Regions from separate parts of the Homo sapiens genome. Here region 2 is linked to region 1. The links come from fine-mapping of genetic effects on gene expression. A gene starts in region 1. The other region holds a variant in brackets. All regions are shown on one strand. Distances are from middle to middle. Region 1 holds the start of NCOA6 (nuclear receptor coactivator 6). Region 2 overlaps NCOA6 (nuclear receptor coactivator 6).

Region 1 (5,383 bases):
TTTTAACTGAAAATTACCATTCTATTCAAATATGAGTGTAGGTAACATACCATTCTAGTATTAGCAGTTCTGTGACTCTGTAACAACAGAAATCTCAAATATCTTTATATCATACTACAATTGTTGCATATAATCTTGAAGTAGCCTTTATGCGCATCATGTCTTTGAAATTATAATTATCGGATCCATCACTAAATCTGATTTCTTAACGTGCTGATAAACAAGTATATGCATATTAGATTTGTATATTTTGGAAACTGTATTTTAATATAATTGGTGTTCCTTATAATTCAATGTACTTTATTTTATACAATTAAAAAATATTATTCTGAAAGGGGTCCATGGCACAGATAAGGTCAGGTCTTCCTGCATTAGAAAAACCCAGAATAGGCTGGGCGCGGTGGCTCACGCCTGTAATCCCAGCACTTTGGGAGGCTCAGGTGGGCAGATCACTTGAGCTCAGGATTTCAAGACCAGCCTGGGCAACATGTTGAAACCCCAACTCTACAAACAGAAAAAAAAGAAAAGAAAAGAAAAGAAAAACCCAGAACAAATGAATTGTGTTGCTGTATATACATATGGTATTGACAGTTTTATTTTATATATGCCCGCATAATATTTTTGTTCGCTAATTCTCTTTGATTATATGGGGCCCTGGACCTATTTTCCATGACTAATTTGCATATTTCCTTCAGAACTCTCCCATAGCCCATGCGAACTTTGAATTCTTCTCTAACATGATCCAACTTCAATTAATAAAATAGAGACTCTGGGTGTCTACAATTTTTCACTTTTCTTTTTTAGGATTTTGTGTTCCTTTGTGGTAAACACCTAGAAGAGAAGGAGCATCTCTCTTTTTTTTTTTTCTTTAGACAGTGTCTTGCTCTGTCGCCCAGGCAGGAATGTCATGGAATGACCATAGCATGGCTCATTGCAGCCTTGACCTCCCAGGCTCAAGCGATCCTCCCACCTCAGCCTCCTGAGTAGCTGGGACTACAAGTACAAGCCACATCAGGTGGCTAATTTTTTTTATTTCTTTTGTAGAGATGGGGTCTGCCAGCTCCTGGGCTCAAGAAATCCTCCCACCTTGGCCTCCCAAAGTGTTGGGATTACAGGCGTGAGCCACTGTGGCTGGCCGGAGCACCTCTTAAAACTCTAGAAAGTTAGAAGGTCTCAAAGATAACTTCTTTGCACAATTAGAGATGAACCAGGAAATACCAAATAACTGGCTGCCTATACTTTTTTGTATTCCCTTCAGCCTTTGTATTGCCACACTCATTACAGGAAGAAAACAAATTTAATAGTTATCTGGTATATACTGTTATGCTTCATTTCTTGTTGTTTTTGTTTGTTTGCTTTTAGTTTCATCACAAGAATGTTATGCTTCATTTCTTAACACCTTTCTCCCAGCTAGCAAATTCCTTTAAGGCAATGTGTTTAGTGAGGAAGCAGCCGACAATTTCTAGTACCCCTCTGCCACTAACTTGTAAGATCTTGAAAAGTCAACTTTACCTTTCTATGTTTCAGCTAAAATCACTACCTGATTTGAAATCTTTACTTGATCTCTCAGGCCTTTGTAGTTTTTATACATTCACTCTTCTTCACCATTTTACTGGCTTCAATAACGCCTTTCTGATGACCTCTCCAGGTGACTCTGCTCTTAAGCTGTGGGCTGTCCCCTTCCAGGGAAGACACCTTGGGTCACCGCCCCCAAACAGCCAGGTCCCTCCTTTTAAAGACACACACAACTCCCTAAGTTGATAAAGGTTCTCTCCTTCCTTGCCAACCAGTTCCACTCTCTGTGCCTCTTTTGCTGGCCAGCTCCTGCACCCAAACCTCAGTCTCCCTTTGTCCCCCTTTTCTCTCATCAAACACCTCCTTTTTCCTGTTGCTTCCCCCAAGAGGGGGTGGAGGATGCTTGGGACATAAGTCTTCAGAGCCTTGGGAGTTATACAGCTTTGCAATTCAGCCCCAGTACCCCAAGGACTGCCCCAATCTGAACCAGCGTCTGTACCCAAAGGGCCCTCATTCCTCATCAATCACCTCCTTCCCTCCCAGCAAAGAACTGCTCCAGCCCTGACAGCCTGAGCTTGGCCCCCATGCCTCCACCCCAATCCCCAGGTCCTACCTGCATTAGGGCTCTAACACCGCCTAAGGCCTAACCCAGTTCCACGTCCTGCCATCCTCTCAGCCCATAGACCCCAATCCCGGTTCCCTTCGGACCCAGTGTTCCTTCTCCGCGACCCTGACCACGACCCCACGACCGGCTCCCGCCTGTTCCCCAGGCCTGGAGCGCCACCCCGTGCAGACCCCGGCCAGCCCTGCACTCCCTCAGTGCACCGGCCCCCGCGCCCAGCACCCTCCCCACCCAGCCCGGCCGCCGCTCCCTCCAGCGCCCCCGCCCGCAGGCCTGGGGCCCGCTCCCCAACATGGCGACGGGGACACAAGCGCGGCGGGCGGGGCGGCTCCGGGCCGGGCCCGCTCTCAGACCGTGCCACTCGGTCGCCCGGCGCCATTTTTCCGCGCGGGCCCGGGCGGCGCCTCCTCCCCGCGAAGCCAGCCCGACAAGGACCGCGGACGCCCGGCGGGCCCACCCCTTACGGGCCCGCGCCGCCGTCCCCTCACCTGAGCGCGGCCCCGGCCCTCCCGGGCGGGCCTTGGAGCGCCGGCCCGGGCCGTGCGTGCCCGCCGCCCTCGGTGCGTCCGTCCGTCAGTCCTCGCGTGCGCCCGTCTGTCCCGCCGCCCGCGCCCGGCCGCCCGCAGCCCGACCCGGCAGGGCCTCACGGAGCCGGCGGGGAGGGGGATGGGCCGGACCGGGCCGGGGAGGGAGGGGGAGGGAGGGAGAGAGGGAGGGAGCGCGAGAGGGGGCGGGGCGGACTCGAGGGGCGGGGCATTGCCCACGTGACCAGACGTCCCCGGGAGCGCGAGGTGGAGCGCGCGCCAGCTCCCTTCGGTGCTGAGTGCTTAGTGCTGGGATCTCGTGGGTCTCTGTCGGCTTTCCAGGGCTATTCTCTCGCCAGTGAGTCCCACTTCGGAAGCACACATTGCACAGTCTTTTGCGAGCGCTCTGAGTATCCTTGGACATGGCAACTCCAAGCCTCAGTTTACCCATCTGAAATATGGGGAAAATCATAGTGCTTGTGAAGAGCAAATGGAGGTGGGCTTGGAAAGCACTTGTCACCGTGCCTGACACATACTGTCTAATAATAAGCTTAATGGGATATAGATAAAAGCTTTCATTATTATTTGCCTCTAAATCCCTCTCTTCTTTTTCCCATCATTACCTCCCTAGCAAGCTAAAATGCTCAGTAAATAGAATTATTGATCGAACGAGTGTGGCCCCTCCCCTCTTCCCAAACGTAGAAAGGCCTCCTCAGCACTGGACTTCATGTCTGTCATACAGGCCTGGATTCATATCTGGCTTTCACTCTTTTTTAAAAATTTTCTGTTTTTTCCCACACTACACTGATGTATTTTTTAAATTTTCGTAAGTACGTAGTAGGTGAATATATTTATGGGGTACATGAGATTTTGATACAGGCATGCGATGTGTAATCACATCATGGTAAATGGGGTATCTAGCAACTCAAGCATTTATCCTTTGTGTTACAAATAACCCAATTATACTCTAGTTATTTTAAAATGTACAAGTAAATTTTGTGTGTGTGTGGTTTTTTTTTTGTTTTTTGTTTTATTTTTGTTTTTTTGAGACGGAGTCTCACTCCGTCGCCCAGGCTGGAGTGCAGTGGCGCGATCTCAGCTCACTGCAACTTCCGCCTCCCTGGTTCAAGGGATTCGCCTGCCTCAGCCTCCTGAGTAGCTGGTACTACAGGCGCATGCCACCACGCCCAGCTAATTTTTGTATATTTTTTAAGTAGAGATGGGGTTTCACCATATTGGCCGGGCTGGTCAGGAACTCCTGACCTCATGATCCGCCCGCCTCTGCCCCTCAAAGTGCTGGGATTATAGGCGTGAGCCACCGCGCCCGGCCAATTGTTTTTTACTGTAGTCACCTTCTTGTGCTAGCAAATACTAGGTCTTATTCTTTCTAACTATTCTTTTGTACCCGTTAATCATTCCCACTTCCCACCTACCTCCCCATTAATCTTACCAGCCTCTGGTAACCCTCCTTCTATTCTCTATCTCCATGAGTTCAATTGTTTTAATTTTTCGCTCCTGGCCCGGCATGGTGGCTCACGCCTGTAATCCTAGCACTTTGGGAGGCCAAGATGGGCGGATCACCTGAGGTCAGGAGTTCAAGACCAGCCTGGCCAACATGGTGAAACCCTGTCTCTACTAAAATACAAAAGCTAGGTGGGCATGATGGCGGGTGCCTGTAATCCCAGCTACTCAGGAGGCTGAGACGGGAGAATCTCTTGAACCTGGGAGATGGTGGTTGCGGTGAGCCTAGCTCGCGCCACTGCACTCCAGCCTAGGTGGCTGAGTGAGACTCCGTCTCAAAAAAAAATAAAAAATAGTTAATTTTTTGCTCCCACAAATAAGTGAGAACATGTGAAGTTTGTCTTTCTGTGCCCGGCTTCTTTCACATAACATAATGACCTCCAGTTCCATCCATATTGTTGCAAATGACACGATCTCACTCTTTTTTAATGGCGGAATAGTATTCCATTGTGTATATGTACATTTTATTTATCCATTCATCTGTTGATGGACACTTAGGTTGCTTCCAAATCTTGGCTGTTGTGAACAGGGATGCAGTAAACATGAGAGTGCAGATCTCTTCCATACACTGATTTCCTTTCTTTCCGGTGTATACCTAAGAATGGGATTGCTGGATTGTATGGCAGCTCTCTTTGGCTTTCGCTCTTGATAGCTGTCCTTGCCTCTCTGAACTTGAGCATCTTCATCTGTAAAATGGGAGTTGGGGTCTGTTCTGAGCATCCCAGGAGATAGAGGATGAGCAGGTGGATTGTAAACTAATTAAACAAATCAGTCCTACTGATCCCATAGAAGAAAGGGAGTCAGGAACCCTTTCATTCCATCAATATTTATTGAGTACACACAGTGTGCTTGGACTGGTGTAGTAGATACCCACCATCTTTTCACATTACCCTGACCGCCCTCTAATCTATTCTCCACCCTGCTGTCAGAGTAATGTTTCTAATGATCAGAAATATGATCATGTCACTACTCTACTTAAAAGTATCTGTTGATGGCCAGGTGCAGTGGCTCACACCTGTAATCCCAACACTTTGGGAGGCTGAGGCAGGTGGATTGTTTGAGCCCAGGAGTTCAAGACCGGGCTGAGCAACATGGCAAACGCTGTCTCAACAAAAAATACAAAAATGGCTGGGCTCAGTGGCTCATGCCTATAATTCCAGCACTTTGGGAGGTCGAGGTGGGTGGATCACGTCAGCTCAGA
Region 2 (5,383 bases), 77 kb before region 1:
CTCAGCTATGCTGCTGCATCTCACTGACGGGAAGTGTGATATGCCCAAATAATTTGTAATAAATAACACAAAGTATTGATATCATGATGGATTTAGCTTTTTGTTTGGATTCAATTTTAAAATACATAAATTAGGGGTAGATTAAAGGTTACTCCTAAAATAATGTCGCTCTCATTTTCATGCCAAAAAGAAGTTGAAATAACTAGTGAGGAAGAAACAAAACATACCCTCTGTACACACAGGGGAGAGTGGCCTAAGTGTGAAGGGTTGTGTATCTTCAACCGTGTCATAGGGGAATAAAGTTACAAGTCATTGCTCAGGCCAAGATAACCAGGTATAGAGATATTGTGGCAGCTGGCCTTGGTTCTATAATATCTAGGTTTGAATGAATTAATTTTAGGAGCTTTTCCATCTTTGACATAATTTTTCAACATTTAAAGGATAGTATTATTTTATAATCAGAGAGGATACAACAAAGGGGGCTTCCAATATTGGTCCTATTTATTATAAATTATTAACCTATGTGGTAGATACATGGGTGTCTCTTTTATTCTTTATATCTTCTTTATATTTTAAAGACTCATTAATGAAACTTCTATAAAAAAGATCATCTTGTTTTAAACCCTGGTAGTTCCCTGCTTTGAGAAGCCCCAGGAAGAAACGCTGCAGGAAAGGCAGGCAAGCAGGATTAGAGTGAAATCATCTCTCCATTTAATCTTATCCTGTTCTGATGCCAACTAGAATCTTGACATTGACAAGAATAAAGAGGCACTTCACATTTCATGGTTTTTTTTTTTTTTTTTGAGACAGGGTCCCAGGCTGGAGTGCAGTGGCATGATCATGGCTCACTGCAACTTCGACTTCCTGGGCTCAGGTGATGCTCCCACCTCAGCCTCCTGAGTAGCTGGGACTATAGGTGCGTGTCACCACACCTGGCTAATTTTTAAAAAATTTTTAGTAGAGACAAGGTTTCACCATGTTGCCCAGGCTGGTCTTGAACACTTGCGCTCAAGCGATCTGCTCATCTTGGCCTCCCAAAGTGCTGTGATTACAGGTGGATGAGCCATCATGCCCAACCACATTTCAGTCCGATTTTATGAGGACTTAAAATAACAAAGACAAATTTGAATAGAATGTGTGTGTGTATGTGCCTTCAAAAGTTATATTTGAAATTTTTACTTAATATCAAGGCAAAGCTTCCAAATACCAGACACATTAAATCACTGAAGTAGACTAGTTAGCAGATAAAATAAAATACTATTGTTTCCTTGAAGACATGGAAGCCTTGTAATGCCACATGCACATGTAATAAGTATATAATCTAGCTAACATTTTATCACCTGGTGGCCGGTTTGAAAATTCTGGCAGTTTAGGGCCTGAGTTATCCAAGTTAATTCCTTGTTCTCCAGGCAACGGTGGCTGATCAGCCTCTTCCAGACCAGCTGGGCGAGTATCTGGGGTGCTAAAAAAAAAAAAAAAAAAAAAAGTGACATATTTTAGAATAAGTTGTATAGAAAATACACAAAACTAGCTTAACCCTTCCCCTATTTCTGAAGAACTAAAATGTTTGCATTACCATTATTCATCTCTCTCTAGTCTAGATAAAATATTAAATATTGGCATAAAAATAATCTGGCAATTTCATTAAATGTTAAAATCCATTTAATCTAACAGCACTGTATTTACTCAGAATGCTTTCCACAAATTCCTGGTGCAATAATTTTCATGTAATCACCCATTCCTTAGCTGTTTTAAGACCTGATCATAGGACTATCAATGTTACAAGGTACTGTTCCTGTGAAACCACACTATCTTCAATGTAGCGATCAAATTCAACTAGGGGGTCTGATTGTTTCTTTTTTGTGGATATAACAGTGGGGGCTCAATTCATAACACCTTGCAAAAGGTTGTATAGGTTGGCTGATGGTATTCAGAGAACAAAGAAAGATTGAGACCACCACCACAAAGATTTTGCTGCAGAATGAGAATTTGCAGACATCTCTATTTGCTTTGAGATGCCTTTGCTTTTACCTGGGTGTAGCTTAAAATTTTTAGTAAGGAAGAAAAAAATGAAGAAATTGTAGCTACTAACACCCACATTCTCAAAGAACAAGACTGGTCACGGGCCTCATTTTGTTTGTAATCTCAGTACTAATTGTACTTTTCTTTTCTATCTTTAGTTTCCCTTTGCCCTGATTTTGTTCACCCACTTTTAGGTAGTGTTTTGTCTCATTATACTCTGTACAGTTTCATAAGCCACAAAAATCCACTTTAAAAGCCTCCCAGCAAATGGAAATTTAGAACCTGAAGCAGATCGTCAGCACATCCAGACCTATAACAATTTGCTCCTTGTAAGACTTCTCTCTCACTTTAAATTACAGGCAAGAATTCAGTGGTAACCTTTACTTTCAGAAAATTGTAGAGATAAGAAATCTCAGATATCTGGTCCAGCCCCATCATGTTATGAATGAGAAAACTAAGGCCCAAAAAGGTGTATGAAACAGGCCCAAGATTCCACAGTGAAGTAGTGGTAGAGCTGGAAGCAGGTACTTTTCCTGTAAATCCACTGTCTCCCTTTCCTGGGAGTCCTGATGCTGTGTAAGGTCCCTTTCACAATTTGTAGACCTAAGTAACCAATTTCCCTAAGGGCTGGTGAAGATGGCAAAAAATACACACTAGAGGCAACTGAATAACCTTGCAATTTTACTCCCAGACTACCGAGAGAATAAAATATTTATTAAATAATTATTCCCATAGGTTGATGCTAGTAAAGAATTTAACTGAGAAAGAGCTATCAGAAAAATTAGATAATTAA[C/G]TTTGAATTCAGGAAAATATAGGTTATCATTAATAATACACCATGATTAGCTTTTAAAGCATAAGATTCAAGAAGAGGCAAGTGAGCATGATATAATACAGTACAAAGAATGTTGTGGGAAGGCTGGGATAAAGGTAGTTGGTTTAATTTTGAATATTTAAGCTGGTTGAAATAAAGTTTCTTGATTCTTTTTCTATAATTCTAACAATTTATTTCAATTAACCTGTTTTACATTCATTAGCCATTATTTCCTCATTTATTATTTTTTTATGATTAAAGGCACAAAATATAGCTCAGTGAATATTCCTTCTGGAAACATTTTATCAAACCCAGAAACACAAATTAATACTTAGCTTCAGGAAATGAAATATAAATTGTTAATTGCCTTTCCTGCTATGATCTTGCAAAATAACTCACCTGGAGAACGTTTACTGAAAGGGTAACTGATTTAAAAGGTCCAATCATCTTAGCGTGGGGTTTTAAGCTTCTAGGGATGATAAAGAGCCTTTAAAGGAAAGGCACCTGTGCAAAAAAACCATTTCTATTTGAGAGACAGCAGTAGTTTTAATTTCCAAAACACATTTGGCCTCTCTGGTTCCCCAATAGCCATCATAAGCCTAAAGTCAGTGCTTTGTGGAGTTGCCATATGGTAGCACTGGTTACTTTTCAGGCTCTGATTGCCAAAACCCCCCGACACTGTAAAATTAAGAGATATACCAGCCAATTGCAACATATGAATCTTGTTTGGATCCTTATTTGAACAAATTGTAAGAAAAAAATTTGAGATAATCAGGGAAGTTTGAACACTGGATATGAGAGTACTAAGGAAGTATTAGTTTTCTAGGTGTGCTAACAATATTGTGCGGGCATATTAAAAAGTGTCCTTATCTTTTAGAGACACACACTGAAATATTTACCCAGCGAATTTGCTTTGAAATACTCAAAAGGGTAATGGAAGAGAGTACAGATGAAGGCAAGACAGACTATGAGTTGATAATTATTGAAGCAGGGGGATTTCATTATACTATTCTAGTTTTATATTCTGTAAAATTTTCCATCAAAAAAGTTATCCACACAGAAAACAAATGAATAAAATTTGAGGCAAAACCATCACAACCTACTTTAGATCTTGCTGACTATTTTTCTTCTTCCGAGGGGGTTTCTTCTTCTTCGGTTTATTTGCGTTGGTATTATTTTGCTTATTGTTTACCCCAAAATGGCCTGCAGATATGTCACTCTGCAATAAGTTGACCAACAATGGGCTCGTTAGCGTGACATCCTTATTGACTGGGAAGCCTGGATTTTGACCACAGGACATCTGATTTCCATTGGGAGCTCCACTGAAAGGTGCATTGAAAGACATCCCATGGCCTGAGAAGTGGTTTCCCGAGGCACTGTTTCCCTGCATGGCCTGCACATGAGGGGGGACCATGTTGGTTTGTTGAATGCTAACATCAGGCATCATCTGAGATAAACTGACATCGTTATTTGCTGTAGTAGCAGGATCACCATGCTGCTGGGCCATGTGTGGGCTGGGCCCTGGTGGCCGCAGGACCTGTCCCTGAATGCCCATAACCTGAGATGGACTGTTGTTCACAGGCCCTTGCTGGGGCAGCATCTGTCCTGACATCTGTCCCGTAAACTGCACCATATTTCCTTGCATGTTTGGAGTTGGTCCCCTCATTATCTGGGCTGGTCCCGGCATGACATTGGACTGGTTCTGAGTGTTAAACTGCTGCTTATTCCCCTGCATTTGATTGGTCATAATCTGCTCTATCATTGGGTTCTGTTGGAGCAAAACCTGCCCCTGAGGCCCCATCATCTGGTTATGTGGCGCCATCATTTGTGGGCCCTGCTGGGAAAGCATCTGCTTGGGTGGGGTCATCCTTTGGGGCGAGGGCCCAAGATTTTGGCTCGGGGGGTTCACCATCATCTGGCCCTGTGGCATAAGCTGGGCCCTTGAAAGGATCATAGGGTTCTGAGGGTTCAAGGTTCCTTGTTGCTGGACCATCTGGCCCTGGGAGGGCACGATTTGCTGGTGCATGCCCATCAGCTGAGATGGTGGGCCCTGCTGGGGCTGGCCTTGCATGTTGCTGAGGTTCACTTGAGGAACCCCAGAAGTACCAGCCTGCTGATTGTTCATGTTGCCATGAATTCCCATGAGGCTGGGCTGCATCATATTTGGCGGCCCGTGGGACACCTGCATCTGGTTTTGAGGAGGACCAGCTCCTTGACCACCTTAAAAAAAAAAAAAGTCACAGTTTCAGAAATAAATATTTTTATCTTATTGGTATTAAGATACTCAAGTTACATTACTCAGAAAGACATCCATCACCCTTATATCCACTGACCAACATAAATATGCTGTTGACATACTTCCTGTGAGTTTTCTAAACTACAAAGATGTGGCTGTGGGATAACTGCTTACATTCCCAATGACCATATAATAGAGAAGGAGAAACAGTTTCTACATTCCCATATGGTATCTTAAAGATTTAACGTTTCAAAGATCAAGAAAGTTTACTTTCTTTCAGATTAAATAATGAGAAAGGCAGCATCTCACTGTTT

What was found. PIP is the estimated chance that this variant, and not a neighbour inherited with it, causes the effect.
Region 2: its variant is the best candidate, but not a certain one, in a credible set for the expression of NCOA6 in whole blood (INTERVAL, PIP 0.57).

The regions. Positions count from the first base shown.
Region 1 is chr20:34,822,847-34,828,229 of GRCh38, forward strand. NCOA6 (nuclear receptor coactivator 6) reads right to left here and starts at 2,805. Exons shown (of 15, transcript NM_014071.5): 1 at 2,626-2,805. RefSeq lists silencers at 2,272-2,711, 2,722-2,911.
Region 2 is chr20:34,745,467-34,750,849 of GRCh38, forward strand. NCOA6 (nuclear receptor coactivator 6) reads right to left here. Exons shown (of 15, transcript NM_014071.5): 9 at 3,937-5,053; 10 at 1,341-1,462. Among named protein-coding and RNA genes, the nearest start is that of TP53INP2, 44 kb to the left of the region's middle. The variant C/G (reference allele first, on the strand shown) is at 2,816.